2 linked regions of the Homo sapiens genome follow. Each later gene encodes a partner of the first gene's protein in a complex. Links are inferred from orthologs where the notes say so. Each region holds a gene or a part of one and is shown on either strand. Other genes may lie near its edges. The genes, in order: ATP2A1 and SLN.

What was found.
Region 2: the proteins of ATP2A1 (region 1) and SLN are in contact, whole or in part, in a crystal structure (PDB 3W5A), measured with the Oryctolagus cuniculus proteins. The link is inferred for Homo sapiens from one-to-one orthologs. Residues at the interface, in XP_069919846.1 of Oryctolagus cuniculus: Phe88, Val89, Leu96, Ala100, Ile103, Val104, Trp107, Arg110, Asn111, Asn114, Arg324, Lys328, Trp794, Leu797, Gly801, Leu802, Thr805, Ala806, Phe809, Trp932, Ser936, Leu939, Leu943, Leu946, Ile947, Val950, Pro952, Leu953, Ile956; in NP_001075856.1 of Oryctolagus cuniculus: Met1, Glu2, Arg3, Ser4, Thr5, Arg6, Glu7, Leu8, Leu10, Asn11, Phe12, Val14, Val15, Thr18, Val19, Leu21, Ile22, Trp23, Leu25, Val26, Tyr29.

Annotation. Positions count from the first base shown.
Region 1 is NC_000016.10:28,873,325-28,888,968, reverse strand, and holds the start of ATP2A1 (sarcoplasmic/endoplasmic reticulum calcium ATPase 1), read right to left. Parts: upstream 10,482-15,644; 5' UTR 10,298-10,481; coding exon 10,180-10,297; intron 10,013-10,179; exon of another isoform or gene 9,871-10,012; coding exon 9,853-9,870; intron 9,481-9,852; exon of another isoform or gene 9,469-9,480; coding exon 9,386-9,468; exon of another isoform or gene 9,048-9,385; intron 8,927-9,047; exon of another isoform or gene 8,875-8,926; intron 8,055-8,874; coding exon 7,950-8,054; intron 6,519-7,949; coding exon 6,380-6,518; intron 4,395-6,379; coding exon 4,314-4,394; intron 1,781-4,313; coding exon 1,695-1,780; intron 1,545-1,694; coding exon 1,247-1,544; intron 183-1,246; coding exon 16-182; intron 1-15. Other genes in the region: SH2B1 (SH2B adapter protein 1), read right to left, coding at 15,149-15,522. UniProt on the Homo sapiens protein: Key regulator of striated muscle performance by acting as the major Ca(2+) ATPase responsible for the reuptake of cytosolic Ca(2+) into the sarcoplasmic reticulum.
Region 2 is NC_000011.10:107,703,628-107,719,241, forward strand, and holds SLN (sarcolipin), read right to left. Parts: upstream 8,430-15,614; 5' UTR 8,336-8,429; intron 4,379-8,335; 5' UTR 4,304-4,378; coding exon 4,208-4,303; 3' UTR 3,751-4,207; downstream 1-3,750. UniProt on the Homo sapiens protein: Reversibly inhibits the activity of ATP2A1/SERCA1 and ATP2A2/SERCA2 in sarcoplasmic reticulum by decreasing the apparent affinity of the ATPase for Ca(2+). Also inhibits the activity of ATP2A3/SERCA3.

The sequences.
Region 1 (15,644 bases):
CACACTGCTCCTGACCTTGCAGACAGACATCTGGTTGGTGGTGAGGGTGCCTGTCTTGTCGGAACAGATGACAGAGGTGCAGCCCAGGGTCTCTACGGAGGGCAAGCTTCTTACAATGGCATTCTTCTTTGCCATCCGACGGGTACCCAGGGCCAGGCAGGTGGTGATGACTGCAGGAAGACCTGTGGGGAGGGAGGGAGGGTGTGAGGGAACCTGCAAGGGGAGGGTGTGAGGGAACCTGCAAGGGGCTAAATAGTAGCCCCCAGCTGGGCACGTTGGTGCACACCTATAATCCTAGCACTTTGGGAGGCTGAGGCGGGAGGATCACTTGAGGCCAGGAGTTTGAGACCAGCCTGGAAAACACAGTGAGACTCCTCTGAAAATATTTAAAAATTAGCTGGGTGTGGTGGTGATTGCCTGTGGTACCAGTTACCCAGGAGGCTGGGACAAGAGGATTGTTTGAATCCAGGAGTTCGAGATTACAGTGAGTTATGATTGTGCTACCACACTCCAGCCTGGGCAACAAGAGTGAGACTCTGTCTCTATTAAACAAACAAACAATAATGGTCCGCAAAGATACCAGATCCTAATCCCTGGAGCCTGTAAATGTTACCTTACTTGGAAAAGGGGTCTTTGGGCCAGGCGTGGTGGCTCACACCTGTAACCCCAGCACTTTGGGAGGCCGAGGCGGGTGGATTGCTTGAGCCCAGGAGTTCGAGACCAGCCTGGCCAACATGGTGAAACCCCATCTCTACTGAAAACACAAAAATTAGCCAGGCATGGTGGCGTGCACCTGTAATCCCAGCTACTTGGGAGGCAGAGGCAGAAGAATCACTTGAACCCAGGAGGCAGAGGTTGCACTGAGCAAGGCCGGGTGCGGTGGCTCACGCCTGTAATCCCAGCACTTTGGGAGGCCAAGGCGGGCAGATCAGGAGGTCAGGAGATCGAGACCATCCTGGCTAACACGGTGAAACCCCGTATCTACTAAAAATATAAAAAAATTAGCCAGGCATGGCGGCGTGCACCTGTAGTCCCAGCTGCTAGGGAGGCTGAGGCAGGAGAATGGCGTGAACCCGCGAGGCGGAGCTTGCAGTGAGCCGAGATCACGCCACTGCACTCCAGCCTGGGTGACAGAGCAAGACTCCATCTCAAAAAACAAAAAAGAAAAAAAGAAAAGAAAAGAAAAGAAAAGGGGTCTTTGCAGATGGGATTAGCAAATGGGAGGAGAAAAGAAAGGCTTTCATACCTTCGGGGATGGCAGCCACAGCCAAGGCCACGGCAATCTTAAAGTAGTAGATGGCCCCGCGGAACCAGGAGCCCCCATGGACGGGGTCGTTGAAGTGGCCAATGTTGATAAGCCAGACAGCCACACAGATGAGGGAGATGACCTTGGAGAGCTGCTCCCCAAACTCATCCAGCTTCTGCTGCAAGGGGGTCTTGTCCTGTTCTGTGGCAGCCATTTGGTCTCGGATCTTCCCAATCTCGGTGCCCACACCAGTGGTGGCCACGATGCCCAAGGCCTTGCCGGCTGCAATGTTGGTGCCCTGGGAAGGGAAAGAGGAGGCAGGGAATCAGGCAAGAGGTGACCCTCATGCCGCATCTCCCCACGCCATCTCTTCTCACACGCCATGTTTCTCTCCAACCCGGGCACCTGGCTTGACTGAGTGTGTGATGGCTGGTCCCGGATTGCTCACCGAGAAAAGCATGTTCTTCTTGTCCTGGTTGACAGCTCGGGGGTCAGGAACGGGCTCCGTGTGTTTGATGACAGATACAGACTCGCCTGTGGAGAAGGGGCCAAGGGGTTTTCGGATGACATCATGTCCTTCTCCCAGGCTTCCCGTGCCTAACTCTCTCCCTGCTCAGCAGGACAGCTCCTGGTAAGGACCAAGTAGCCATCCTGGGGGATGTCTGGACTCTGGAAGAAGCCACTGAAGGCAGCTAGGAAGTCCATTGCTCCTTTTTTTTTTTTTTTTTTTGAGACAGAGTTGCAGTCTTGTCACCCAGGCTAGAGTGCAGTGTCAAGATCTCAGCTCACTGCAACCTCCCGGGTTCAGGCAATACTCCTGCCTCAGCCTCCCAAGTAGCTGGGATTACAGGCACATGCTGTCACACCTGGCTAATTTTTTTTTTTTTTTTGTATTTTTAGTAGAGACGGGGTCTCACCATGTTGGCCAGGCTGGTCTCGAACTCCTGACCTCAAGTGATCCGCCCACCTCAGCCTCCCAAAGTGCTGGGATTACAGGCCACCGTGCCCAGCCAGAAGTCCACGGCTCTTAAAAAGACCTCGACCCAAGCCCCAGCTTGACCACTAACAAGCTGTGTTTGATCACCTAACTTCCATGTGCTCCTCTGTAAAATGGGGACAAGGACATGTACACTGCAAAACAATGTCTTGGGTGAAAATCAAATAAGTGGACATATTTGGAGCCACACTTTTAACTGTCAAGCATGTTTCTGGGAGGAAGGGGGACCTACACTTACGACCATGCCTCCCTCACCCTAAGAGCAGGGGCTCAGCAGCAAGCCTGGGCCAGCCTAGCCCTTGCCCCCTGGGACCATGGGGAATGTTTTCTGCCTCTTCTTCGCTTCTCCCTGCCAGTGCGGAAACAGAAGCAGCTATGGTGGTTTTACAGAGACAGGGTCTTGCTCTGTTGCCCAGGCTGGAACGCAGTGGTGTGATCATAGCTCATTGCAGCCTCAAACTCTTGGGTTCAAGTGATCCTCCCACCTCAGCCTCCCAAACAACTGGGACTACAGGTGTGCAGTACAATGCCCAGCTAATTTTTAAAAAAATTTTATAGAGATGGGGTCTTGCTCTGTTGTCCATGCTGGACTGCCGTGGTAATCATAGCTCACTGTGGCCTCAAGCTTCTGGGCTTAGGCAATCCTCCCACCTCAGCCTCCCAAGTAGCTGGGACTACAGGTGCACACCACCACACCCAGCTAGTTAAAAAAATTTTTTTTTTATAGAGATGGGGTCTCGCTGTGTTGCCGAGGCTGGTCTGAAACTCCTGACCTCAAGTAATTCTCCTGCCTCAGCCTCCCAAAGCACTGGGATTACAGGTATGAGCCACCACGCCCAGCCTAGCAGCCATGGTTTTCAGTGTATCTGAACCCCCTATCTTGTCCTAGAATCTCATGGCTCCTCCCTGGAGGATTTTTGAGGAGGCTGAAGGAGACAGGACAGTTCTCGAGGTGTCTGTGGCCCTATGTCCATGTGGAAGGGGTGGGCTGGTGGCTATCTAGAGAGTAGGCAACAACATCCAGCCTTCTCCCACTACCCGTCCCGTTTCAGGCTTGGGACAGAATGGAAACGTCAAGCAGGTCAGGTGCAGTGGGTGGCTCACACCTGTAATCCCAGCACTTTGGGAGGCTGAGGTGGGTGGATCACGAGGTCAGGAGTTCAAGACCAGCCTGGCCAAGACGGTAAAACCCTGTCTCTACTAAAAATACAAAAATTAGCCGGGTGTGATGGTGGACGTCTGTAATCCCAGCTACTCTGGAGGCTGAAGCAGGGAATTGCTTGAAGCCAGGAGGCAGAGGTTGCAGTGAGCTGAAATCGCGCCACTGCATTCCAGCCTGGGTGACAGAGCAAGACTCCATCTCAAAAAAAAAAGAAAATGTCAAGCAGTGCTGCCACTGCCACAGCCACTACTAGCGAGCCAGGGGGAGGCCCCAGTGCTGGGTTTTGTTTTGTTTTGTCTTTTTTTTTTTTTTTTGAGATGGGGTCTTGCTCTTGTTGCCCATGCTGGAGTGCAGTGACATGATCTTGGCTCACTGCAGCCTCAGCCTCCTGGGTTCATGCAGTTCTACTGTATCAGCCTCCTGAGTAGCTGGGACTACAGGTGCCTGCCACCACGCCTGGCTAATTTTTGTGTTTTTTGTATTTTTTGGTAGAGATGGGGTTTCACCATGTTGGCCAGGCTGGTCTCTAACTCCTGACCTCAGGTGATCCACCCACCTCGGCCTCCCAAAGTGCTGGGATTACAGGCATGAGCCACCTCGCACAGCCTTTTGTTTTTATTTTGACAGAGACAGGGTGGCCCAGGATGGAGTGCAGTGGTGTGATCACAGCTCACTGCTGCCTTGACCTCCTGTACCCAGGCGATCCTCCTGCCTCAGCATCCTGAGTAGTCAGGACTACAGGCACTCAACAACATGCTCAGCTAGTTTTTAAAATTTTTTTGTAGAGACAGGGTCTCTTTATGTTGCTCAGACAGTGAGGGTTCTCTGTCTTTCCACTCACCTCCCCCTTGTTGCCTCTTCCTCCCCACGTCCCACCCCCATGCATCTTCCCACCCAGGCCAGCAGACCTGTCAGGATGGACTGGTCAACCCGCAGCGTGGTGGATTTGATGGCGAGGATTCGGATGTCTGCAGGGACTTTGTCCCCCACTGTGGAGAGAGTAGGGAAGAGGGAGGTCACTTGGGAATGGAATTTTCTTCCTTCCAAAGAAAAACCCAATCTGTGTCTGACTCGTTCTCCTCATCCATCCTTCAGGTCTCAGGGAGGCTCCCAGGGCTTGCATCAGGCCCTTGGCTTGAGCTCCTGAAGCTGGCAACCCCTCATCGTGACACCCATCCCTTCTGCCCCCGTGTCCACGGCGAGATGGAGTCTCGCTCTGTTGCTCAGGCTGGTCTTGAACTCCCACATCTCTTCCCACTGGCTGTGAGCCCTGAGAAGGGATGGGCAGGTGTACTGCTCAGCACATAGTACATGCTCAATAAATGCCCACTGAATGACTGGAGGGGAAATTAGGGACAGTCCAGCTGTAGGACAAGAAGCTATAATTGAGATTGGGAGACAGGAGTGAGAAAGGCAAGGAGGAAAGGCAAGGAAAGAACTCAGGGAAAACAGGGTGCATTAGAGAGAAGGGGTGTCGGGGTGAGAGAATGAAGTGGACAGCCAGGGAAGGCAAGGAGAAACGGGAAAATATGGAAATTGAGAAAATCGAGGGCAACCAAGAGGAACAGTGGAGGGCAAGGCAGGAGAGGAGTGAGCGGAAGGTATGAGTGGGCAGGACTCAAGGCAGCGGGGGGCACAGGGTGGTCATGGAGAGGACCACATATCGGGAACCTGACAGCCCGGTCTGAGCATCTCAGGGAGGCAGGGAGGCGGGGAGCCAGGGAGAGTGAGCTGGGGACATGGACAAGACAGGATGGGATGGGACAGGAGAGAAGCGGGGGTTGGGCAGGAAACAGGTGTGGAAGAGTGGGGCGGGCAGCACAGGCTGGAGAGTGAATGGGTGGAGGTGAGGCCAGGGAGACGCACAGGTGGGCTGGCAGGCCATGGAAACCACCTTGTCGGGGGGCTGGAGAGGTGGATGCCCAGCCAGACTCAGAGACCTTAGGAGGAGGCTAAGAATCTCCCAGGGCCGCTGCCTAATTCCGCACTGGTCCCACGGATGGTACTGGGGACAGGGTCCAATCGCTTTCCTTTCCCTCTGTTTCTAAGGATCCCTCCTGTGCCAGAGGAAATGGACCGAGGAGGGAGGAGGGAGGTCGGGATAGAGTCGGGCGGGACACCCTGTCACCCAAGCCCGCGTGATATTTATAGACATTCATGGCGCTGACTCCATGCTGTCACGGCGGCAAGGCTGCCCTGTGATGGGGCGCTGGGGTCTTCAGCCTGCCCTCACTCCCTCTGCCCAAGCTCCCTGGGGTGGTGATTCGGATGTCTGCTACAGGGAAGGAGGCCTCTGAAGAGCCATTCCCCCTGGCAGGGGCCTGGAGCTTCGGGAAGGCCTGCTCAGGGCAAACATAAAAACCGCTGAAGGGGGCAGAATCCCAGTAATCTTAGCCACCCGGCCCCCACCCCTCCCTGGCCAGGCATTAAGTGTCCCTTGCCGCGGGCGGGGCCCTCCTTGAGCTCCCTCCTCCCCGGTCGCGTGCTCTGTGCCAGGCCTGAGTTTCCCTTACATGGTCGGGGGCTCGAGCCTTCGGCCTCCCTCCTCCCTTCTGCCCTCGCTCCTTCCCCTTTGAGAGGCCTCAAGGGCACAGAGAGGTCAAGACTGAAAGCTGACCAAGCTTGGGGTGGGTGGAAGGAGGGGGAAGCCAGGCCCGGGAGGGGGTGGAGACGGGGCCATTGGCAGGGACCGGGTTCCACCTGTTGCCTGCGAGTGCAAGTGCAGGGTGAGAGGATGGGGAGCAGGGGGTCTGCCTGCAGCCTCAGGGACAGGACTGGCTGTTCCTGCTGAGACTCCGCTGGGGAGGGGGGGATGTGGCCGGAGTGGCCTGGGATGACCTTCTGAGGAGTCGGAAAGAGAAGCAGACTCCGTCATCCTCCTGGACACCTGGATCCGAGCCTGACCAGCCCCCGGCATCTCCTAGGCCTCAGCCCCAAGGCCTCCCATCCTGGACCAGCCGTCCCTGTCACTCACCAGCCACCTCCACGATGTCCCCAGGGACGATGTCCCGAGCCTTGATCCTTTGCACTGACTTGCGGTCAGCCCGGTAGACCTTCCCCATCTCTGGCTCATACTCCTTCAGGGCCTCGATGGCGTTCTCTGCGTTCCGCTCCTGAGGAGACAGGGTGGAGGAGGCAGGGTTATACACAGGAGGCAGAGTTATGGAGTTGTGGCTCCTGGCACGGGGGAGGCAACAAAACCCCACACAGGCAGGGGTGTGTGTATGTTGAGGAAACTGTCACCTACAGGTGAAAACAGGTGAGAGGGTTTTGGGGAGGGAACAAAGAAGAATCAAAGAAAATCAGGCCGGGCATGGTGACTCACGCCTGTAATCCCAGCACTCTGGGAGGCTGAGGCAGGCGGATCACTTGAAGTCAGGAGTTCGAGACCAGCCTGGACAACATGGTGAAACCCCGTCCGTCTCTACGAAAAGTACAAAAAAAAAAAAAAAAAAAAAAAAAAGCCGGGCGTAGTAGCACGCGCCTGTAATCCCAGCTACTTGGGAGGCTGAGGCACGAGAATCACCAGAACCTGGAGGCAGAGATTGCAGTGAGATGAGATTACGCCACTGCACTCCAGCCTGGGCAAGAGAACGAGACCCTGTCTCAAAAAGAAAAATCTAAATAAAAAATCAAAGAAAATCAGAGGCTGCCCTGCAGATGCTGTCCTGGACCTGTCAGCACCACAGACACAGGTGGCTCTGCTGCGCCTGTAACACTGGGGCAAAGAGAAAGTGCTATTTCTCTCTTTTTTTTTTTTTTGAGACTGGGTCTCACTCTGTTGCCCATGCTGGAGTGCAATTGTGCAATCTTGGCTCACTGCAACCTCCGCCTCCCCATTCAAGTGATTCTCCTGCCTCAGCCTCCTGAGTAGCTGGGATTACAGGCACCTGCCACCATGCCCAGCTAATTTTTTTGTATTTTTAGTAGAGATGGGGTTTTACCATGTTGGCCAGGCTACTCTTGAACTCCTGACCTCAACTGATCCACCCGCCTCGGCCTCCCAAAGTATGAAAGTGGCTATTTCTATCCTCAGTGTTCAGAAACCAGTGAGCACCAAAAAATGGCTTATAGCCTGACATTTCTTAAAACCAAAGCAAGGTAGCATTTGGGTTTTCACTTTGGAAATGACCTAAAAACAAAACAAAACAAAACAAACCAGGAAGCAGAGGACAGGACATGTAGGGGGTGGTCAGGTCAGTGGAAGAAGGAAATCAAGCTAGCGTCTATTGAATTCCTACTGTGTGCCAGGAACATGCATCATCTTAGTCGATTTCACACTGGATTGCTAGCCCCATTTTATGGATGAAGAAACTGAGGCTCAGAGGGATGAAGGAACTTGCTCAGGGTCACATAGCCAGGAAGTGACAGTGGGTCACAGTCTCCCACCTCTTCCCCACACTCCATCCCATTCCAGACCAGGGGATAGGACCAGAGGAAGAGGCAAGTATGGGGGAGGTGATGGAGGAGGAGGAGACTGGAGGGAGGGTTGGCCTCTTCTTCACTGTTGGGACATGAAGGGGTAAGGAAGGGTCAACGCTAACCTGCCAAACCCCCACGATGGCATTGGCAATGAGGATCAAGAGGATGACAAAGGGTTCAACAAAGGCAGTGATGGTCTCTTCACCTTCCTCAAACCAGGCCAGCACCTGGGGAGCAGGGGAAAGGAGAATGACAGGTAATGAGGCCCCAAAACAGATGGAGAAAGGAAGTGGACCACTGCAAAGGGGAGAACTGTGCAGGAGAGTGCAGGAGCCAGCAGGAGGGCCGGGCACCGTCGGGGCGCTGTGGCCCCACATCCGTCTGAGGGTCTGTCCATCCACTGCAGGTCCTGCCACCGCCTTACTCAGCGGGATGGGCGCGCACAGACTTGCACCACTTGGGGGATTAGCTGGGAATGCTTTCAGGTTTCCCTGACCAAGCTGCTGGCTTAGAAGCGAAGCTCAGGCCAACCCCCCGCACAGCCACATCCATCCCACGGGAGCCAAAACCCGAGAGGAAAAACCCTGTGGTCTTCGCAGGCGGTCTGGCCCCCGCAGCCCTCCCCCTCGGCCAAGGCAGGGAAGCTCCGGTTTCACGAGGGAGCCGGAGCGGGGATAGGGTTACGGGGCCTCCTGCGCGCGCCCCGCCCCAGCTGTTGCCACCGCCAGGCAGCAGGCAAATGTCAAGGAGCAAATCTGAGAAGGGAGAGGAGAGGCCCTGCCAGCTTGTGCTTAACGCGACGGGGCCTGCGTTCGGAGACCAAGGCACAGGGAGGCTTTCGTTGCCTCCAGAGTCCCCAGCGAGGCTCACATGCTGCGGAAGAACCCGCGACATGCAGATGGACCGCGGGATGGGGAGTAGCCCCCAGGGCGGGAGAGGAGGCAGAGCCCTGGAGATGCCCTGCGGGGGTGGGGGTGCCTAGGGAGCGCGGGGAAGGGCTAAGGCCAGGCTGGGCGGGTAATGAGGGATGCCAGTGCCCTCCCTGACCGGGCGCCGGGCTCCTTGGAGTCATCATCACACCGCCGCGCTTTCCCGCCACTAGGAGCGAGTCCTCCCCTCGACCAATCAGCGTCAGGAGGCTGGGGAGGGCGGGGCAGGGGCGCCGACGGGCGCGGGGATTGGTGGAGCGGCCGTCCGCCCGGCGCATGCCGGGAGTGGCAGTGGCCCCCCGCGCCGCAGCCGGCATCGCGGCGGGACCCGGAGCCCGGAGTTCGGGTGGGTAACCCGAGCTCTCCAAGCTCTTGAAGCCGCGAGGGTGGCTTAGCTTCGGTGTTTTGGCTGAGAACACCCTTAAAGCTTAAAATAAAACCTGCCTCTGGGGTGCAGGGGAGGAGAGAGGAGGACGCGAATCACACCCGCTGCTGCGCGCCAGCCCGCCCCGTCTGTACAATGGGATGCTCGGGACTCGGACGGGAGGATCCAGTGACTGCGAGCCCCGCATTCGCCCGATCCCAGCCTCACACCCCCAGCCAGCCCCCAGAGACCCTCCCACACTTACGAAGGAAATGCATGCGGCCAGGAGGAGAATCCGCACCAGGAGGTCTTCAAACTGCTCTATCACCAGCTCCCACAGGGTCTTCCCTGGGGGAGGAGGCAAGGGGAGGGCCCCGGGTTAAGGTCTAGTGGGTGAAGGTCTGGGATGGAGCGCCCTGGACTCCGGCCTGCAGTGGGGAGGCTCTAGGGTGGTGGGCAGACAGCTTGGTGCCCAGAGAAGGGCTAAGAAGCTCGCCTGGAGTCCAGAAACAGACTCGGCAAAGTGGGGGGCAGTTCAAGGGTTGGCTGCTTCAAGGAGAAAGCGCCTGGGAGACTTCTGCCCCGGACAGGACTCTAACCTTTAGGGAGGGAGATTTGCCTTTTGGGAAGGGATATTTGCTCAAAGAATCTAAAGAGGCAGGGAGGAGGGAGTGGGACAGGGCGGGGTGGGGGGTGGTCATTTATGAGAGTTCAGGGATTCCAGTAACTTACCTTCCTCAGCAGGGAGCTCTACCCAGGAAAAAGAAGAAAAGGACAGATTCATTTGGGGTTCAGCCTCATGCCCCCCACACCCAAGACTTTGTGGCTAAGAGAATCAGGCCACCTTGAGGTTCATCAAGTTCATCCCATTAAAACCTCCCAAAACTCTGGATCTCGGGACTCTGTTTTCTCAGTATCTTCTTCCCCCTGCGAGCATTGGACAACGGCCCAGCTCTTCCTTAAGAAACCCTGAAGGGAGAAACGCGTGCATGCGTGTGCGTGTGTTTTGGGGGTGCAGGAGGGCATTAATTACCAGCCGCTCTTCCAAGGGACACTTACCATTGAGGCCGTATTTCTCCAGATTCCGCTTAACTTGGTCCGGGGTGAGGCCCGTGGTCTCACTCACCCCAAAATAGGCCAAACATTCCTCCGTGGTTTTAGCATGAGCGGCCTCCATTGTGCTCCCTTCCTGGGGGCCGGGGCCGGTGTGTTCCTTCCAGGGGGTTCCCACTCGTGGGGGGTCTTCCTCAGTGTGTCCAACTGCCTGTCTGCCTGGGTTTCTTCTTTTTACTCTCCTGCCCCCTCCAGGTTTTTCTTCCCTCCACAAAGCTCTGACCCCCGTCCCACTTGAGCAGCCGGCCACCCCCCGGCCCCCAGCTGGTCCTTATGAGGGAGCAGGGGGAGGCCGGGCTCCCCCCTCCACCAGATCAGGGATTGGCTGGCTGAGACTCCAGCAGGAGGTGGTCAGAAAAGAGAGATATTTCTGCTGACAGAGGGGGAACAGTGGGGCTGCAGCCTGAGATGTCACTCATGAGGGACGCAAAGGTAGCCCCAGCCCCAGGGAAGTGGGGTAGGGAGAGACTTCACTTTCTGTCATCTGCTACTGACCCTGCCCCCCCATTGCCTCGACTTCCCCAGCTGCATTGAATTTCCCATTCCAAACTCATCCCCCCAGTTCTTCCCGGAGCCCTCTTCCATCCCCGGCCTCACCTGTCCCTTTCCTCACACCCCCCTTCCTGCCTCATCTGCCCGGAGCCTGTTTCCATTGCCGCAGTCTCCTTCCTCCTCACCCCATTTGCTGAAGCAGTGGCAGAGATACCCCAAGCCTTTGGGGGACTGATGAAGGGAGAACATCTTTTGGGGGCTAGAGGAAGTGAGTGGCTCCTAGAGGGACAAGGGGAAGTGAGGGGAGAGAGTCAAGGGGACAGGGCCGAAGATGGTAACCCTACCCTAGGGAGGGGTTGCCACAGCCATCAACAAGGGATTTAGTGTCCAGGCCCTGGTGAGCAAAGCCAGCACTGCCTGTCTCTCCCCAAAACTGCCCCCCCCCTTCCCCATCGCTCTAACTCAGCCTCTGGGAACAGAGCCCTGAGGGCCCCCCCATCCTGGATAGGGAATCCCCACCCCACCCCCAAGAAAATGGGACACCAAGGCAGCCAAGTAACCCAAGAGGCTACAGAATGTGCTGATGGCAGAGGGGGAGGGGTAACTGTCTCAGGATGGGGGCAGGGGTCACCCCAAGTCGTGCACTGAGGGTCACCTCATCCCACACTGTGCTCTAACCAACGGGGTTTCTGTGGCCAGCCCCAGAGGCCTGTGGTCTGCGCTGCACTCTGCCCTGCTGCATCTGTCCACGAGGGGAACAGGATCAGGCCCATGCTGTGTGCGTGCAGGAGCTAGGCAGACCCCACAGAAAGGTGTCGGGGCCTGGGGAAGCTGGACCAAGCAGGGGCTCCAGACCAAAGGAATGGGGAAGGGTGGACTTCTGGGGACAGGTCTGGGGGAAATAAGGACAGATGTCTAGACCTAGGGGGAAAGGGAGCAGAGACACAGAGCCACCAGGGTCAGAGGGAAGTCCGAGCAGCAGTGGGGAAGAGGGACAGCAGGGAGCCAGGTGGGCGGGGACCCCGGCGCTGGGTGCAAAGCCACAAGTTGTTGCTGAATGCTGGCCTTGGTGTCAGCTTCCTCAGAGAAGCAGCTGCTCTGAGCTGCCCCTCCCCACCCCTGCTCCAGGATGGGGGCGTCTCTTGGTTACCACCAGGGCAGCTGCTGGAGGAGCCGAGGGAGGGTACCAGGGGTGCAGGAAGGGGAGGACAGGCAGGCAGAAAGGCTGGATGAGAGTCAGGGTGAAAGGTCAGTGAGGGGAAGGGGCCTGGTGCCCTGGGCTCAAGTCCGTCCTCTGTCTAGGCCTGTTTCCTGAAATGAGCAGAGGCATGTGGACTTCCTAAGTGTGGCTTCTTAAGGCTGCTTTCCATTCTGGGGCTCAAACTCCGAAGCAGAGGACAGAATAGGAGACAGCAGAGCAAAGAAAAGGGAGGCCCCCACTTTTGGGGAGGGGGATGGCAGCAGGGGTGGATGGAACTTGAGGGTTCAGCCTCCCAGATGCATCCCTTCTGCCTGGACTTGGGTGAGGCGCGGCCTCCTGGGTGAGTTGAGGACAAGGTGCTCCTTCCTGCCTCCTTTTCACAGTTCCAACAAACCCCTCCCCTGAAGCAGAATCCTGCTGTGACCTGAGGGGAGTGGGGGACAGTGGGCTGAATTGGGGGTGCAGGAGAGCATTAGCAGCCTCTCTTCCAAGAGACACAGCCCCCGGCACCTCCACCCGGCCCAGCACCCACCGTCTCCGCTGGACTCAGGCTCACACCCGCCAAGGCTTTTGGCGCTGGCCGGCGTCTCCCCACCGGCACCTGGAGGAGTGACAGGGGCTACTGTCTTACAGCAGTGGGAATGCCCAAACATGGAGAGGGGCAGACGGAGAGATGGGCAGCTTCGAGGGAGTCGAGAGCCTGAGACAGAGGGCAGGGGGCAGGCTTGGCAGCACATTCCTGCCAACAGGCCTTTAAGGTTATTCATTTCTACCTCCCCCGGCTTCCCAGAGGGGGAAACAAGCCAGGGAGGGAAAGCCACCCGCCAGGAGCTGCAGAAGGGCTGCTCTAGGGAAGGCTGTGGGTGTGAACTGCCATGGAGGGAGGCTGAGCCAGAGGCGCCCTCGGGGATCCCTTCCCACAGGGGTCTCCACGCCCAGGGATGGAAAGTGATCCTCCTGTCACACCTGAGGGCTGGAGCTAAAAGCATGGGACACAGAGACACCCTGGCCAGTCCCTGATGAGTGCAGAACTTCGGTTTAACCATCTGTAAAGAAAGGCTTAGAGGGAAAGTCTCTCAGGCCCCAACAGCCAAGACATGCTGGTCTGAGGAGTGGGTGGGTGTCCTCGTCCCCCTCCCCTGCCCATCTTTGGAAGGCAGGTCCCTGAAGGCTGGCAGGGCTGGGGGAGGGGGAGCCTCAGAGCACCAGTTGCTGCTGGAAGATTAGGAGGGGATCAGGCCCTGCTTACCTCGGGGCACCACAGCCTTCACTGGCCATCTCACTAAGAACCCAGCACCCGGCTCTCCAAAGCTTCCCCCACTTTCAAGGCCGGTCCTATCCCCAGTCTCCTGAGGCCAAGGTTTGGGGAGCCCCAGAAATTAGAGCAAGCAGGAGAGCCAGCAGGCTTCCCTCGGCTAGCCCCCCGCCTGGGTGGCCTGGAAGCCCAGCTGTCTCCTGTCCATCTCCCTACAGGACACAAGGCCCAGAATAGCAAGGTCATGAGCGTGGGTAGGGCCTCCTGGAGGTGGGGGCTGAAGCTGAGGGGCATGAGGGTGTGGGCTCCTTGCTGCCTGGGCGGGGAGTGAGGCAGGATGCTGAAAGGCGGAGCTGGACAGTGGGGAAGGGAGAAGGCCGAGCTCAGCGGGTGGGATTCTTCAGCCCCAGGCCCCTCCTTGTTGGCACCCACTACCCCCAGAGCTGGGAAGCCCAGGGGTGCCCTCTGTTGGAGGGCACAGCCACAGATCAGGAAGACTGATTCCAAGAGCAGAGCCTGTGTTTTACGGGGTGGAGGGGTGTGCCACAATGGGGGTGGTGTTATAAACTCAAATGCCCACAGGGCCAGGCCCTCCCAGGGAGCAAAGTGAGCTGGTGGGGATGGGGCAGATGTGGAAGTGGACCCACATCACTGGATCTTCTGATTTTTAAGAGAAGCCAGTGATTTTTTTTTTTTTTTTTTTTTTTTTAGACAGAGTCTCGCTCTGTTGCCCAGGTTGGAGTGCAATGGTGCGATCTTGGCTCACAGCAACCTCCACCTCCTGGGCTCAAGCAATTCTCCTACCTTAGCCTCCTGAGTAGCTGGTATTACAGGCGCGCACCACCACACCCGGCTAATTTTTTGTATTTTTAGTAGAGACGGGGTTTCTCCACATTGGTCAGCCTGGTCTCAAACTCCTGACCTCAGGTGATCCACCCACGTCGGCCTCCCAAAGTGCTGGGATTACAGGCGTGAGCCACCACACCTGGCCTGTGATCTGAATTTTTAATGTGAAACTCAAATGGACACCATGTCCAGGCCAAGCAAACCATGTCAGCAGCTCTGACTCAAGATGAAACTTCACATGTCACAGATGAGGATGCTCAGGCCCGGCGTGGCTACACCTTGCCCAGGCCAGTGAGTGGCAAGGCCAGGACAGAAGCTAGTGCCCTCTGCCATCCCTCCAGCCTGGCTTTGAGAAGGGGGCCATTGGGCCCCTCTGCGGCTACCCTGTGACTGCCACGTTCAATCTCTTCCAGCACAGCCACCGTGCCTCCCATCTCTCACTGCCAGCTCTCTCTAGGGTACAAAGCCATAACTCAGGAAGGGCCGCTGGAGATCACCATGCCTGCCATTCACAGCACTGTCCCATGACAAAAACTCGCAGGAGACCCCAAGAGCATCATTTAGTGCTCCACGAACAAGGCTGTCAGACACAGGGATGGCTCCGAAAGCACAGCACTGCAGAATGATGGGGACTGGCCTGGGCCAGCCCTCTGGCCTGTGGGCACTGAGTGGGCTGCCTTCCCAACCCAACTGTCCCCAGTCCCCACAGCAAACAATGGCCATAGCCATCACGATAGAACCGAGATAAACCTTTTTATTTATTTATGCTTCTCCATTTTGTTTAAAACAACAACAACAACCACCTTAATGTAACTGACAGCCCTTCCCCCTCACCCTGCCTCGGGCTGGGGGTAGTTAATGGGGAAATGGCCCCCAGGGTGGGGCTGACCAGAAGAGCCCCTCAAGGAGCTCATGGAGCCCAAATCCCCTGCCCTGGGGAGGGGACCTGTAGTGTGTGACGGGAGCCTCTCCCGAGCCTCTGCTTGTACCATCAAAGATGCCCTTGGCCAACAAGGGTCAGGAAGCATGGGGGAGGGATTTCGGCCTCCTCTGTCCCTACCCAGCCCAATCTCACGAGCAGGGCTGGGGGGTTTAAAAAGGGTGGAGCGGGTGGGGTTGGCTCACACGAAGGAGTACTGGTTGTTAATGGCCCTGGGGTGGCCCCCTTCCTCTCCATCACCCCCTAGTGGTGACTGCTGCAGCTGCACCATTGGGGGCACCCCCGCGTCCCCACCAGACCCAGCGCCCTGGGCCTCTGAGCCTGGGGCTATGGCCTCTTCCAATTCAACCACGGGGACCAGCTCAACCACGGGGACCAGCTCTTCCGGGACCCCTCCACCGCCCGCTTTCTCTTTCTCTTGCCTCTCTTTGGCTGCTGCGGCTGCTGCTGCCGCCACTTCTGGCGCCCTCGACGCCTCTTCTGCCCCAGGCTGTGGGGGATCTGTCCATGAAGGGGGTTCAGGGGGCTGGGGTGGGTCATGGGAGGTGGTCGGTTCTGGATAGGAATGGTAAGAAAACAGACTGATTGTGGAGGCAGGTGAGCTCCTGCCGTGGCCTCCCCTTCACTCAGCCCCCCAGGAGCGTGGCTGTCTCCCCACATCCCATCTCCTGAGCAAC
Region 2 (15,614 bases), on another chromosome or scaffold:
AGGAAATGATAAACTAGATCTACTGAAAGAATGATAGATAACATATTCAGAGGAAAAGGGAACAGAACCAGTTTAATTTGTCACTAACTACTTTCCGGGGGTACTCTAGGCATTCAGGACAGGATTCTGGGTAATGAGATTTCAAGGTGGTAACAGACATACCCAGCCTGCTAAGGAAAGGTCCAGGGATGCCATCTAGAAATGGCATTGATTATGCACCAAAATGCCTGTGGGGCAGGCAAGAATGGTAGAAAGACTGTGTTCCAGTGAAGCAAAAGCGACAGCAAAATGATAAAGGAATAGTAAAAGTAAAGAAAGGGCTGTCCCCTTGAGATGCCCTAAATTAAATTAGAGAACAATGGAAGCACTACCATTTTGTGACCATTTTTGCACACCCCATGTGGGTCCATGAAGCAAAGATGGAAATGTGATTATGGATGCTGATCAGGTTGGCGTATCTTGAGTCTCTTTTCTTAGAGCCACGGCTTGGGACATGAATTATCTGGATAATTTCTTATGCCTTATGGAGCCAACTATATGGCAGCCCCAGGAAGAGGAGTTGGGGACCAGTTATGGTGTTGAGACTGCCAGAAATGAATAAAAAGTATGTGTATTTCAGTGTAAGAGAATAGTTAGATAAAAACAAGAAGGTCCAAAGGATGTACACCTTAGTAGTGAGTTTAGAGAAGACTGGAAGGAAAGTCTAAGTTAGCACTGAAAGATGCCTTTTTAAAAAAAATCAGATGGTTGGTTGGTTGGTATGGTAAAGTGGGCAGCTCAATGCCAATACAGGCTGGAATCTTGGAATCCCAGGACTTATGGCAAGAAGAGGAGAACATCACCCAACAGAGAACTGCTCAATGGGGTGAGATGGTAAACGGGAAGAGCCAGTCTGGCTGCTGTGGACACAAGTGATAGGACAGCCCTAGGCCAGTGTCTAAGTTATATGTAAGCACAGACATGACTCAAACAACTGTTGGTGGCAAAGGGCCCCCTCAGTGCATAAGGCATGCCAGCAAGAATCTCAGAAATGATTCAACTTGGAAGTCAGAGCAACGTGACAGAATTGTGAGATCTGCTCTTATGTGGCATGACTACTGCCAGTGGCTGGAGAGATGCTGTGTGCTTCAACTACACCTAAATTCGCCATCCTCTCTAGCTTTTGGTTTTTCATTCCTGCTATTCCTTCTGCCTGGAATCTCCTTCAACAGCACCTTATCCTTATCTTGTCAAAGAACTTTTCACACCATTATAACTACCCATTTAACATATCTGTCTACCCCACTAAATGGTATGCTCCATGAGAATGGGGCTTGGCTTTCTCGCCATTTTATCTCCAGTGTCTAGTAAATGCCCAGCACTTAGTTTCATAATAAGTACTTGTTGAATGAATGAATGAATGCAAGAGAAAAAAGCCAGAGTAGGATCAAGTCTATGAGCTGGAACTTCAGTTAATAACTAGGATTCAGTGCTCTGGTTCTAGAGAACTAGCATCTTGTTTGGGATAATCAGGCAGCGTTTCAGTGGATGGAGCCAACATTGAGGGACGCAGAGTTCTGTGATGAATCAGGGTACTTGAGGTCATAGGGAAGTTTGTACATAAAGGAGACTTATGAGTCAGACTGGGATTTAGCCATAATGACTAGGACTCCTGAATGTGAAAGACATTACATAATTCCTAGCCCCACCACTAAAGTTGTTAATGGATATCCTATACCTGCAAAGATTGCTCACAATGTGGTCTAAAAATGGGCCCTCTCAGTAGATTCAGTCACAGGAAGTTAGAGAAAGAAAGGAGTGAGGATTAACAGGCAAAAAGAAATGACATAGAGTACTGCAATTGTTACCTTGATCGAAACAGGCTGATATTTTAGAATACTAAAGAATGTGAGGGTAAAACCTAAAGCATAATCCAATGGTTTGGAGATCTATAACAAAGCATGATTTGTACTCAGTTCCCCATAGAGGTTAAGATGATCCTTTTCTCATTGTGGCTTCCCCACTCACATCTGTTTAGTGAAGTCTCTGATCCTCAGTTCCCAAATCTGCTAAATGGCATGAGTTATGGAAAGTGCCCAGAACAGGGCTTCATATACGGTAGACTCAATAAATGGTACCTGTTGTCAGTGTTGGCACCATCACTCAGATTTCTGTGAAAGGCCAGATGGTCCAACATCTGAAGGGAATGTTGTGGCTCTCCCCAACACACACACACACACACACACACACACACACACACACACTTTCTCAAACACATACACAAACAGTAGGTTTTCTGCAAATAGGGGAAAGACGGCTAACCGTCTACTGAGGGCCCTAGAGCCACAAGTCTGTGAGTACATATGCTGCCTACTAAATCATTAGCAGTTGCACATCCATATGTGTAGTCTAACTGAAGTTAGGGACAACGCATTGAGGACTATATGCTGCTATTTCCCAATTTGGAGAGGAACCTCTCAAAATATAACATTTTTTCTTTAGCTATTTGAGGATTCTTAATCCTGGCTGCACATTAGTGTCACCTGGACTTCTTCGAAAAAAAGAATAACATTCAGGTTCACCCAAGGCCGAATAAATTAGAAATGGCTAGGAATGGGGCTCAAGCTTGCGTGGTTTTGCTAAGGGTCCCCCCAAGTGATTCTAATATGTTAATCCAAGGGTAGCAGTCTGGAAGGGCAGCACTGGCATCACTTAGGAGCTTGTCCAAAATGTAGGCTCTCAGGCCCCACCCCAGACTGAATCAGAATTAGAATGGAATTAGAATCTGCGTTTAAATGAGACTTCCCAGTAATTCACAATCACATCAAATTTTGAGAAGCAAGGGTTGGTATCAGTGATTCTCAATTCTGGCTACACAGTGTAATCATCTAGAAGATATTTTAAAAAGATAGATACTTGGGCTCTATCCCCTGGGATTTTTATTTAATTGGTCTGAGAAGGACCCAGCCTCAGTATTTTGAAAAATCACCCCTGGGATAATTGACTTTCTTTGAATGCAGCCAAAGGTTAAGAACTATAATGTGATGTAGTCAATGCCTCAATGACAGGTCAAATTCTTGGCAAGAAATGCCTTCATGAAGGCGGCTATGTAAGATGAGGTTTAACAACATTCCCTTTCTCCATGGTTACCTCAGCACAAATAGCAAATTTGTTCTGTCTAACATGGGGTGTTCAGGCAACACGTTTAAGAAACATCTATTTTATATGTCTTTTATAAACATATAAGTTTGCATTTTCTATTTTCCTCCTTTTAGAACTGTAGTTGATTAAAGACTAGCTCCATTTGTGTAATAACAATAATCAAAATAGACTATGCTACTCTTAGGGACATGACTCATGTTCTTGTGTTACTTAGTGTAAATAATTTTAAATATTTATATGAAAACAAACATGAAGATATTATAAGATAGAAAATACATTTCTTGTGGATTCTAAAGATAAAACACAAGACTTCAAAGAAATGTTGCACTTTTAGCCAGCAATTCAGCCTGTGCTTCAGACCCCGTAGTGGAATGGATTTATTCTCCCTCTGCCCTTCAGACTAGTTTAGGGGAAAAGTTTGAGGAGCGCTGAACCAATGGAATTACTTGAAATATGACACAGTGTGTTGACTTGGTTTCAAATCTTCAGCAGTTGGAGCATCTTGGCTTACCTCAAATGCTAGAAATACGGTAGCACTTGTCACTCCAATCCCAGCCAAGGGTCAAATGCTCTGTCACACATGGAAGCTAAAATAAGTTCTAGAAGTTGTTTTTGAAGTTGACTTAACTTTATTCACATGATAGCTATAAGGGCTGACAAAGACTTCCTCTAACATTCCTTCTGGCAGGTTGAATTAGAGTTTGGTTGCAGACCGTGTGGGTTGAAGGGATGTGTGGTGAGACAGATCAGGGGCTTGTAACAATCCTACATCATCATGAATCCAGTTTAATTTTAACTTTGTGGCTTGTCTAACACATTTTCAGTTAAGAGTTGGGGAATAAATCTACCGTTCCCTGGCAAACACTTGGCAGCCCTTGGGAGCAGCATCTTTGGAGAACACATAATCAATCCTAGCACTACAGCATAGCAGATATTGTGAGTGCAGGTCACAGGTGCCCTCGGATGGAGAATGGCATCCTGTGACAATGACAGCAGTGGGGTCTCAGGGCATAGAGCAGGCAGCTCCGGAGCATCTCAGTCAATCCCAGGACCATGGCATGGCCTCTCAGTACTGATAGGACCTCACAAGGAGCCACATAAGAATAACCGTAATCAAGACAATAGTGAAGTTGAGAAACAGCTCCCGGGTGTTTATCCCCATTTTCACAGCGGCTTGGTGAGAACTGCAGGCAGATTTCTGAGGGCACACCAAGGACCTCTGGCTTCTCCTCACCTCCTGATAAAACATAACAAAGAAAACACAAGGAGATTAATGGGCATTCCTGTATAACAATGCTCGTTCTTTCCTCAAAGGAAACAGAAGTGTTGTGGAAAAGGAGAGTGTGATGGGCTAAATTGTGTCCCCCAAAAATCTACATGTCAAAGCCCTAGCTCACAGTATCTCAGAATGTGACTGTGTTTGAAGATAGGGTCTTTTAAGAGGTAAATAAGTTAAAATTAGGTAATTAAGGAGGGCCCTAATCCAATATGACTAGTGTCTTTATCAGAAGAGATTAGGACACAGACACATGCAGAGGGGAAGACCATGTGAAAACACAAGGAGAAGATGGGCATTTACAAGCCAAAGAAAGGACTCAGAAGAAACCAACTGTGCCAACACCTTGATCTGGGACATGTAGCCTCCTGACAGTCTTTGGACTGGAGACTTCCCTAAGTCTCCAGCCTACCAGCCCACCCTGCAGATTTTGGACTTGCCAGTCTCTGCAATCGCACAAGCCAATTCCTTAAAAACAGACACCAATCCCCTCAACACAACACATTCTATTAGTTATGTTTCTCTGAAGAGCCCTAATGATTACAGAGAGAGAGCCTGATTTCTCTGCCTGATGTCATAAAGACCACCATTTTTGTCCTGACTTTTTTCCTGTGATGATCGTATTGGTGCTTTTCATAAAATGTGAAATATTACATTTTTCTTTCTCCAACTTCTGTGTGTGTTTGCGTGTGTGCGTATGCATGTGTATACTTTTCTTAAGAGTATCAATAAGCAGGGGTACCAAAACAAAAAAATTTTATGGTTTAGTATTGTTCTTGCTTTGAATTACATAGATAAGTGGGATGCCATAATCTTTCAGGCCTCAGGCTGCTGTAGGTCTTCATCTAACTCTACGGAAAGCAGAAAGTACTTTCAACAGCTGCATGGCCTCTGACAAGTCCTGCATTGGGCACATAGCCTACTGGGATCAACCAAAAGCCCCTGGCATAACAGGCATTCAGCCGAAAGAGCAAGTGTTAACTTCATGGGTACTTCGGTTTCAACAAGGGCTTGTGCCAGCTATTTTTAGTCAGGTCCAGGATGTGCCTAGATTGTAAACATTTCAAAGAGCAGGGATGGTATCTTCATAGTATGTACAGATTGTCCATACAGGAAATCATACTTTGAGAACATGTGCAATGAAGTCATCAAACTATTGTCTTCAGTGAGATGGTGTAAATTGCACATTATTTATGCAGCCTAAATGAAATTAAAGATTTATATATTTTAGATAATTCGATATCTATGTTTTAGACATTTAGGACCAAAGTCTACTGTAGAGTGAAAGTTTAGGGAGAAAGGGTATTTTGTGTGTTTGCTAAAGGTGAGAGTTCAAGAGGCTGAAAGGGTTGTTAGCAAGCTTTTGGTCTGAGTGGTATTTTTAAACTATCTAGCATGACTGAATTATTAATTGTAATTACTGTATTGATTATATTATCAATGGACCAAATTGTTAATTGCATAAATGCCAACTGAATGATCATTTTTCATATTGTGTAATTGGCATAACATACAGGTTCAGCCAGGCATGGCAGTCGGTACCTGTAGTCCTAGCTAATTGGGAAGCTGAGGTGGGAGGATCCCTTGAGCCTAGGAGTTTAAGACCAGCTTAGGCAACATAATGAGACCCTGTCTCAAAAAAAAATACAAGTTCAAATCAGATGGTGCCAACCAGTAGATATATAGCCAAATGATGACAGATTTATATTTCATCTCCCTTTTAATTATTATCCATCTTTTAGACCTCAGCATGAAGGAAATAGTAAATTGCCAATGAAAACCATTACAAATGGCTGGGCGTGGTGGCTCATGCCTCTAATCCCAGCCCTTTGGGAGGCTGGAGTGGGAGGATCACTTGAGCCTAGGAGTTCAAGACCAGCCTGGATAACACAGCAAGACCCTGTCTCTCCAAGAAAATAAAAAGGGGAAAAAATAGAAAATCTTTACAAAGATTTGCATGGAGGAGAAAGTAAACAGAATAAAATGAATGGATCAAGGAAAAAGGATTTATGAGAATGTACAAAAGAGCAGAGGAGAACAGAACGGTAATGAGTCTTGCCAAGGTGCCTGGAGGCAAAGGAATGAGAAACGAAGACAGACTCTTTCTTATAAACTTATCAATGAAATAAAACCATAGTCCAAATGTCCATCTATTTGGGTAAGTTCTCAAGAAATGCAGAGATAAGCAGAAAATATGAAGCCTGGCTTATAATGGTCAAAACAATTCAAGGAGAGCAAAACAACGGTCCCACCAAATCTGCCTATTAAATTAAGCTGTTAAGTCATGGGAATCATGGATAGTGATCCAACAGGATATACTCAGAAAATGAGAAAAATACTATTGAAAGCTGTTCCACAGCTCTGTTTGTGTTACCTTCGCAACAACTCAGGCAAGTGTTACTGCAGTTTTTATCTTTCTCAAGATTACAGCTGAGAAACTGACTTTTAGAGAGAGGAGATTAAGATGTTTGTGTAATGACAGATAACAAGTTAGAGGCAAAGCTAGAATTAGCAGACTGGAACTAGTTACTAGAATTCCTAGGAGTTATGACACAAGTGAATTGTCACTGCAATTAACTGGCCTGGCTAAACAAAGTTAGCATAAATTTTCAACCACTTTGGAAAACAATTTAGCTTTCTTAGAATTAATGTTGAAAATGTTCATTCTCTAATATCTGGCATTTCACTTCTACCTTAAGACAGTCAAGGACGTGCGTGCCAGGTTACATAAATAAAGAGTTCACAGCAATATTATCACAATAACTCCAAACTGGAAACAACTCAAATGTTTATCAACAGCAGAATGGATGATAAATTGTGGTATAGTTATACATTTGAATTTCATAAAGCAAAGAAAATATATGAACTATAGCTACACAGAAAATGGGTAGATCTCACAAATATAATTGTTGGGTGAAAGAAGAATTTACAAAAGAAACAGAGAATATGACTCCATTTATATGATGTCAAAAATAGGGAGGTTAATCATATTGTTTAGGCATGCAGACATAGATGGTCAAATTATAAAGAATAACAGGGACAAGAGGATCCCAACATCTTGGGGCAGAATGGGGGTTGATCAAGAATGGGCTTCTGGGTGCTGGCAATGATCTGTTTCTTGACCTGGATGATAATTATAGAAGTGTTGCCTTTCAGTTATTGTTTAAACTGTGTATGTTTATGCACTCTTAACTTTTTTTTTTTCAGTCATTTCTGAATTAGCAGGCTACCCATCACACTTCTTTCTTTCTTGGGATTTACCTCTTACTACTTCTTGCACTTTAATGGTGACCTTGAATATTTGTTGTTTTATGTGATTTTAGATGAATAAAACATGAAGAGTTAAGGTGAGAATTTCTAGTGAATTCAATTCAATCAACACATATGCTAACTGTAAGGTGTGGTGTGAACATTCCTTTCACACACATTTATACACTTTAGGAAGAATGAACCAGTTAGGCAGAAATTCAGATCAGCCAAGTTCCATTTTTCTGCTTTTAACCAATAAAGACACTTTGGGTTTCATTTTAAACATTCCCTGAAGTCAAGGTCATGCCATATGATCCAGTGATTGCAAATGGATGAACTAAAACCCAAAAAGCTCTGAATAAATTGTGCAGGAAGTTTGACATTGGCTTTCTTTGAATGGAGACTTAGAGAAGATAGAAAAAAGACCATCTTCCATAATACAAGAAAGAAAAAAAATTTTTTTTTACTAGGAAGGGAGAAAATGCATACCCTTAGGAGAAAAAAAAAGGAAAACAGAAAGCAATAGTACTCACTTTATATCTTAAGGCATGCTGTATCCAAGGGGCATTGCCTATTTCATTAAGAAATGCAAACATTCCTCTGCCTTTCTCATTTGCAGCTTGTACACACACACACACCGTATGCTAAGCATAAAAATCCTGCAGTTACCTGAAGAGGATCAAAGACACACCCTGGCTATGGCAGGTTTCTCCTCGCTGTCTCCAACTTGAGCTCCAACTCCTTCTCCCCTCCCAGGCTGTCTGGACTCCTGGACTCTGGGCAGCGCCTAAAGTAGTCCGTGGAAGCTGGCAATCACTGTGATGTCACTGATGAAACATCTCAAAGGAACACCCTCCGAAGGTTCGAGGCTATTTGTGTTCGGGGGACATGGAAATATGTTGACTAAGACTTTGTTCCTTTGGCTGCCAATTTGCCACCACCAGGATTTAAAAACCTTCTGTTTCCAGTTGACTTTTAGTGCAATTGATGTGGGTTTTAAATGTGTCTTTTACATCTTCATGAATAACTTTAACATGTCTTTAAAACATCATAAACCAAGAATGATAGACTAATTTTAACCAATCGATGCTGCATTTGACTGCTCTCCCTAGTCAGCCTGTGAGGTGTAAAAATGTGACTTCATTTTACCACCCATATCTTTAGTTATTTGAAATGTGAAGAGTTTGCTGCCTTACACCCACACATATGCACACCCATACACACACACACACACTCCAGAATTCAATAGGCATCTTTAGCTCTTTCAAAACTGACTTTAGTCCAAGCAGTGAAAGCTATCCCCTCCGTCACCTGCTCCACGTAACTTTCCAGCTAAGCTGTGCATTGCAAGTTTACACGTGGATCTACAGTTTCATCTGAAACAGCCGAGGAAGTCATGGTTTGTATATCTCTGGCAATAAATTAATAGAGCAGTAAACTCACACAGTTCAACTCAGTTATTTGGATAGATTGGGAGTGGAAGGAGAACTGGGTAAAATTAGTGAAAAATGTGAATTATAGAATATATCTGAAAGAAAGAAAAGTATTATATAACTTTCTAATATGAACACTAACTAAAATTAGACTAAGATGAGTTTGTAACCAATGTATCACATGTTTGGAGCCCCTGAAGTGTTAAATTAGACTTGAAAGCAGATCAATTAAGTACTTTAAACATGACCCTAGCAATTGTGTTTGCTCAGCAGATCCTTTCTTTATAGATAATAGAGGAAATCTCCCCCTCTGAATTCCCAATTAGGGTCAATCAAAATAATGCATTCCCAAAAGGCATAAACAAACAAAATTCTCTATGCAGTTATGCTCATAGTCAAACCTTTCCCTCCATTCCTCATACCCCAGAGACATTACCAAAACAAGACTTTCCATTTCATTTCCTCATTTTAACATAAGCTTAGCAACGGGTAATCTTAATACAACATTCTGTCACCACTTGTCTTGTGAAAAGAGCGCTTGCTGAAGTGACAGAGAGTGTATAATAATTATAGTGCAACCGAACATTGGCAGTTATCTGTTGCCATCTGGCAAACTCCTTGAATGTAATCAGAGTTCTGTCTTCTGCCTCCAAGCTCTCACTAGATTGTTTCCCAGGCTGGGAATGTTTTTCTAGTTACCAAGCCACACCTGTCCCTTTTTGTAACCACTCAAAATTATTTTTTGTCAAATTAAAAAAGTTATATATTTATTGTAGGACATGTGAAAATATATTAAAGTATTTAAAACTTTTAAATTACTTTTAATCTCACCACCCAAAGGGGAAAAAAACAAAACTTTACTTTACTTTTTTTTTCTTTTGAGATGGAGTTTTGCTCTTGTCACCCAGGCTGGAGTGCAGTGGCGTGATCTCAGCTCACTGCAACCTCCGCCTCCCGGGTTCGAGCGATTCTCCTGCCTCAGCCTCCTGGGTAGCTGGGATTACAGGCATGCACCACTATGCCTGGCTAATTTTTGTATTTTTAGTAGAGATGGGGCTTCACCATGTTGGCCAGGCTGGCCTTGAGCTTCTGACCTCAGGTGATCCAACCGCCTCAGCCTCCCAAAGTGCTAGGATTATAGGTGTGAGCCACCGGGTGCCCGGCCTACATTACTTTTTATTCATCCGTTTGAGGCTGCATAGGCACAATCTCAAATTCCCAGGATATTTTTGGTAAAAGAATCTGAAACTTGAAAACCTTTTTTCTTAATTCATTTGGAATCAAATTATTTGTAGTATATCATGTGTTGATATTAGGTTTATGGGATAAGCATTTATTTTGTACATCTCAGATTATGAATTAGCTCTACAATATTTAAAATGTTAAATACAATAGCGAAATGTTAACGTATCACCAAAAGAGCTCTCCAATGTTGTCATTTTGTTGAATTGGTCAATTTCAAAGTAACTTAGAAGAAAAATTCTACTTCTTATTTGACCGAATTGATGGGTTAGTCTGGTTTGCCTCATTTAAGCATGTCTAAGCTGCACCAAGGACTACTGTGCCCAGTGCATTGACAAATTCCCAGACTTCAGACGCTTCTGAAAATTAGTGGTTTCTTCTGTAATGTCAAGAGATTGGGATTACACTTGGAATGTAGTTATCACTAGTTTAGCTTTACCCTCTCCAGAAACACATGCAAGCCGCCCCAAATCACCTGACAACTACTCAAAGGCATAAGGAGGGTTTAACCCTCAGGATCTGCAGGTTTGCTTAAAAAAAAAAAAAAAATCTTGTTTCCTGCAAGGAGCCAAAATAAAATAAAAATAAACTCAACATTATTTTACAAAATCAACATTATTTTTTCTCATTTAAGAAGTTGAGAATTCCAACATTTCAGACCTTAGTACCAAAGCAAATTCATCCTTTGCAATTAACGTTACTTAACTCTGCTAATACTTTCCTTCCTGAGAGCAATTGCCATGACTTAGCAGCATTCATTTCATATCAACTTTCTTTCAAGGTACTTCTCTGCCCATTGGCAGGACGACATTCTAAATAAACTTTGAAATTATTTCTCTGCCTACTAATCTAGAACTTAGCCAACGGCCAAAAATGTTAAGAAAACAACATTCACATTGACGCTGGCACTGAATCTCTAATTGGTATCTCCCCACCACCATCACCATATACATTCTCAGGTGTGAAAATGACATCCTTTGAGAATCAGTGCTGAGCTCTTGTGCCTGATCGGTTGCTAAACTAGCTCGTTTCATGTACTCCCCTCGTCCACCCGCCTTTTTACCCTGAGAACTGAAAAGTGAAGACCTATGTCAGTCCTAGAATTCTGCAAGTCTGCAACATGATGAGAGAAGTCACCAAGGCCTTGATGAAGGTGATAAGCTCTCAGCACTTCACAGTATCGAGCATGATCGTCTCAGTGGCCTTCTCACTTTGCCATCTTCACATCCAGCTGGTCATGGAGCTGGGAGAAAGAGAGCAACAGCTTTCTGCTATTCTCCCTCACTTTCCCAAACACATGAGTGAGCGCATGCCCAGAGAGAAATGAAAACCCTACTTCTTGAAGTTTTCTCCACGTCACTATTGCCACAGTCATCAAATAAGCCCTGCCTTTCTGGCCACGGGGAAAGCCCATGTAAAAGTCATGAAGAAACTTAAGTGGCCACTGGCAGGTCGACACAATACTGCTAATTCAAACACTTTAGCCCAAGCCATCTGCGGGAAAGTGGAAAGCAAATGGACCTTGAAGTGACAAAGGCCTGTGTTCGTATTCTAAATTTTCCACTTACTGAGTAACATTAAAAAAATGATCATCTATCCTTTCTGGGCCTCAGTGTCCCCATCTATAATATGGGAATACTAATAACCCTCAAAGATCTGTGATCAAGATCCAATTGATAATGTACGTAAAATCAACTTGTTCCTTTCCATCACTAAGATTTGGTACTACACCGATGTGTGTAAAGCCAAGCATAGAGCCTGCCTGGTCATAAGTTAAACCATGCTAGTTGTTTGAGGTTTTTTTCAATCCTAATCATTAAAAGTAAATAAATAAATGACAAGGAGGAACTCCTTTCTCTTGGACAAGTACAAAGCTTCTCTTTTCATTTATGACCAAAGGAGAATGGGCTGAGTGTCACTTCGTGTAAAAATCCTGTGAAACATGCACTAATATAAGGACTGACTTGAGCCCAGGCAGTGAATGGAGGGCATGGAGTTGAAGAAAGCTTGGCCTCCTTGACTCTGTCTCTCTCCTGCCACCTGTGTGTCTCTCAGATGCTGCCCAGGTACTGCCACTACAGAGCCGAGGGGATGTACATCAGAAGGCCAAGTCATCACCTTTGCCATTACTTCTGCAATTGTTCAACTGGTATCAAGTGAACACTACTAAATACACAGCATTGTTCTAGTCACACAAGAAATAATAATGACACAGAGTAGGGCTACTGCCCCCCAAAAGAAGAAGATTAAGAAAAGTAGACACTATTTGCAGTCCATCAACAGATGAATGGATAAAGAAAATGTCATCTATATACACAATGGAATACTATTCAGCCTTAAAAAAGAAGGAAAATATTGGAGAACATGATGCTAAGGGAAATAAGCCAGACACGACAAATACTGCATGTTCTTACTTATATGCGGAATCTGAAACAATCAAACTCATAGAAGCAGAGTAGAATGGTGGTTACAGAGGCTGGGGAATGGGGTGAATGGGGAGATGATGGTCAAAGGATACAAGGTCTCAGGAAGAACAAATATATTTTAGGCCTATTGCACAGGATGGTGAATATAGTTAATAACGGTGTATTGTACATTTCAAAACCGCTAACAGTAAATTCCATTGTTCTCACCATGAAAAATGATAAGTATTTGATGTAATGGATATGTCAATTAGCTTGATTTAATTATTCCACATTTGGTAGCCTATAAATATCTACAACCACCAATTGTCAATTTACAATAAAATTTGAATTTTTTTTTTAAAAAGGGGCAGCTGGCCGCAGTGTCTCACGCCTGTAATCCCAGCACTTTGAGAGGCCAAGGCGGGTGGAACACTTAAGGTCAGGAGTTCAAGACCAGCCTGCCCAACATGATGAAACCCCATCTCTACTAAAACAAAAATTAGCCGGGTGTGGTGGCATGTGCCAGTAGTCCCAGCTACTGGGGAGGCTGAGGCAGGAGAATTGCTTGAACCTGGGAGGCAGAGGTTTCAGTGAGCTGAGATTGCACCACTGAACTCCAGCCTGGGTGACATAGCAACACTCCATCTCAAAAAAATAAAAAGAAAGGGACAAAAAAAATTAGAATACAAGACAGTGTGAGAGAGGTGGCATCAGAATGACGTCAGGAAAGATGATAGGAGTACCTGGGTGAGATTAAAAGAGAGCAGAGCAACTTCTTACAAAGCATAGAGAGTGGTACTGAAGATGAAGCAGACTCATAAATGATCAACTAGAAGACTTGAGTTGAGCCTCAAAAAGAGAAAAAAAGCTACTTAGGGCTAAAATAATAATAATAACCACAACAATGTCAAGTAGCACTTACTAAACATGAATCACCTTATTTAATTCCTTCAACAATCCTGTGAGGTGGGTACAACATTCCTATCCCATGGAGGAGAAAACTCGGGCCCAGAGAGGCTGTGCCTTGATAAGTCGAAGAGTGCCTAAGTGACAGAACTGAGATTTAAAGCTTTTGGACCCAGCCCTGAGCTCTAACCACTACACGATAGTGCATTCAGGACAACTATGAAAGCATCCTCTAGCCCAGGAGCCTCCACCTCCTTTTGACTGTGCACTTTATTGATAAAAAATTTTACCATGATCACTGACAGAAAATGTATGTATTTTTAATAGATTATATGCAGGTGCTACTATACTAATTTATTGTGCATATTTTACAGCACACTAATAAACATTTTAAAATATGAGGCCAGGTGCAGTGGCTCAGACCGGTAATCCCAGCACTTTGGGAGGCTGAGGCGGGTGGATCACTTGAGATCAAGAGTTTGAGACCAGTCTGGCCAACATGGCGAAACCCCATCTCTACTCAAAATACAAAAATTAGCTGGGCATAGTGGCAGGTGCCTGTGATCCCAGCTACTCAGGAGGCTGAGGCACGAGAATTGCTTGAACCCGGGAGGCGGAGGTTGCAGTGAACCAAGACTGCACCACTGCACTCCAGCCAGGGGGACAGAGCAAGACTCCATCTAAAAAATAAATAGATAAATAAATAAATAAAATATGAGGCACAAAGCAAGAGAAAGTAAAAGTCTACTTTGTTTGTTTTTCCCCATCAGGAGACTACTTTTCCCCCATTTGGAGACCTCTGCAATACTCTATGGCACCTAAAAAAGAATGCCATAAAATTTAGCTTTTGGTTATACATTGAATACTGGAAGGTGAACAATAAATCCTTGTTGAAAATATAAATGATTATTACCTCTGTCATTACCCACTTGTGACAACTGTGATTTTTGTCTCACTAACTGAATTTAAACTTCAAAGTCACAATTGCTTGTATTTCTTTTGTTTCTCTAACTGTGCCCTGAACCAGTGAAGAAGCAGAGTAGATGCTCCAAAATGCATAGCATTGATGCATTTTGAATGATGCATTTTGAGTGATGGAGGTTGAGCCTCCATCACTTCACATCCCTGCTGATGTCCAGGTATGTCTGAGCATGGTAAAAGTCAGTGGGGAAGTCAAGGTCAACATCAAAGCTACTCATACATGGACCTCAAAGCCTCCCAGGAGAAACTCCTCTGAAGGGAAGTGAACCAAGAAGATACACATAGGGCCAGGTGTGGTGGCTCACACCTGTAATCCTGGCACTTTGGGAGGCCAAGGCAGGCAGATCATCTAAGGTCAGCAGTTCAAGACCAGCCTGGTCAGTATGGTGAAACCCCAACTCTACTAAAAATACAAAAAAAAAAAAAATCAGCCAGGCGTGATGGTGCACACCTGTGGTCCCAGCTACTTGAGAGGCTGAGGCAGGAGAATCGCTTGAACCCAGGAGGCAGAGGTTGCAGTGAGCCAAGGTGGTGCCACTGCACTCCAGCCTGGGCAACAGAGCGAGACTCGTCCCAAAAAAAAAAAAAAGATACACAAGGGTCAGCAACAGGGAGAACAGACAATGCTTCCATACCAGGGAACACACATTCCCTGTGTTAGTTCAGTCCCATGAGAAGCAGATGCCAAGATGACACTAAGTGTGCAAAAGTAAAGCATATTAGGGGGAATGACTCTGAGAGAAAATAGAAGGAAGTGGGGAAACTGAGCTAGTCATCAAATAGCAATCCAGGTCTGACCCCAAGAGGAGAGAGGGCCAGGGGACAAGAAGACTGGATGGCAGCATCTTAGACTGCAATGCTAGGGAAAGTCTGACAGGGCCATCAGGAAACCTCAAGTCAAAATCTCCTGTTACAGGTGCCCTGTGTCTCCCAGGGATAAGTCAGCCCTAGTGTTCCTCTCATGCTCAGTCATCTACTGGG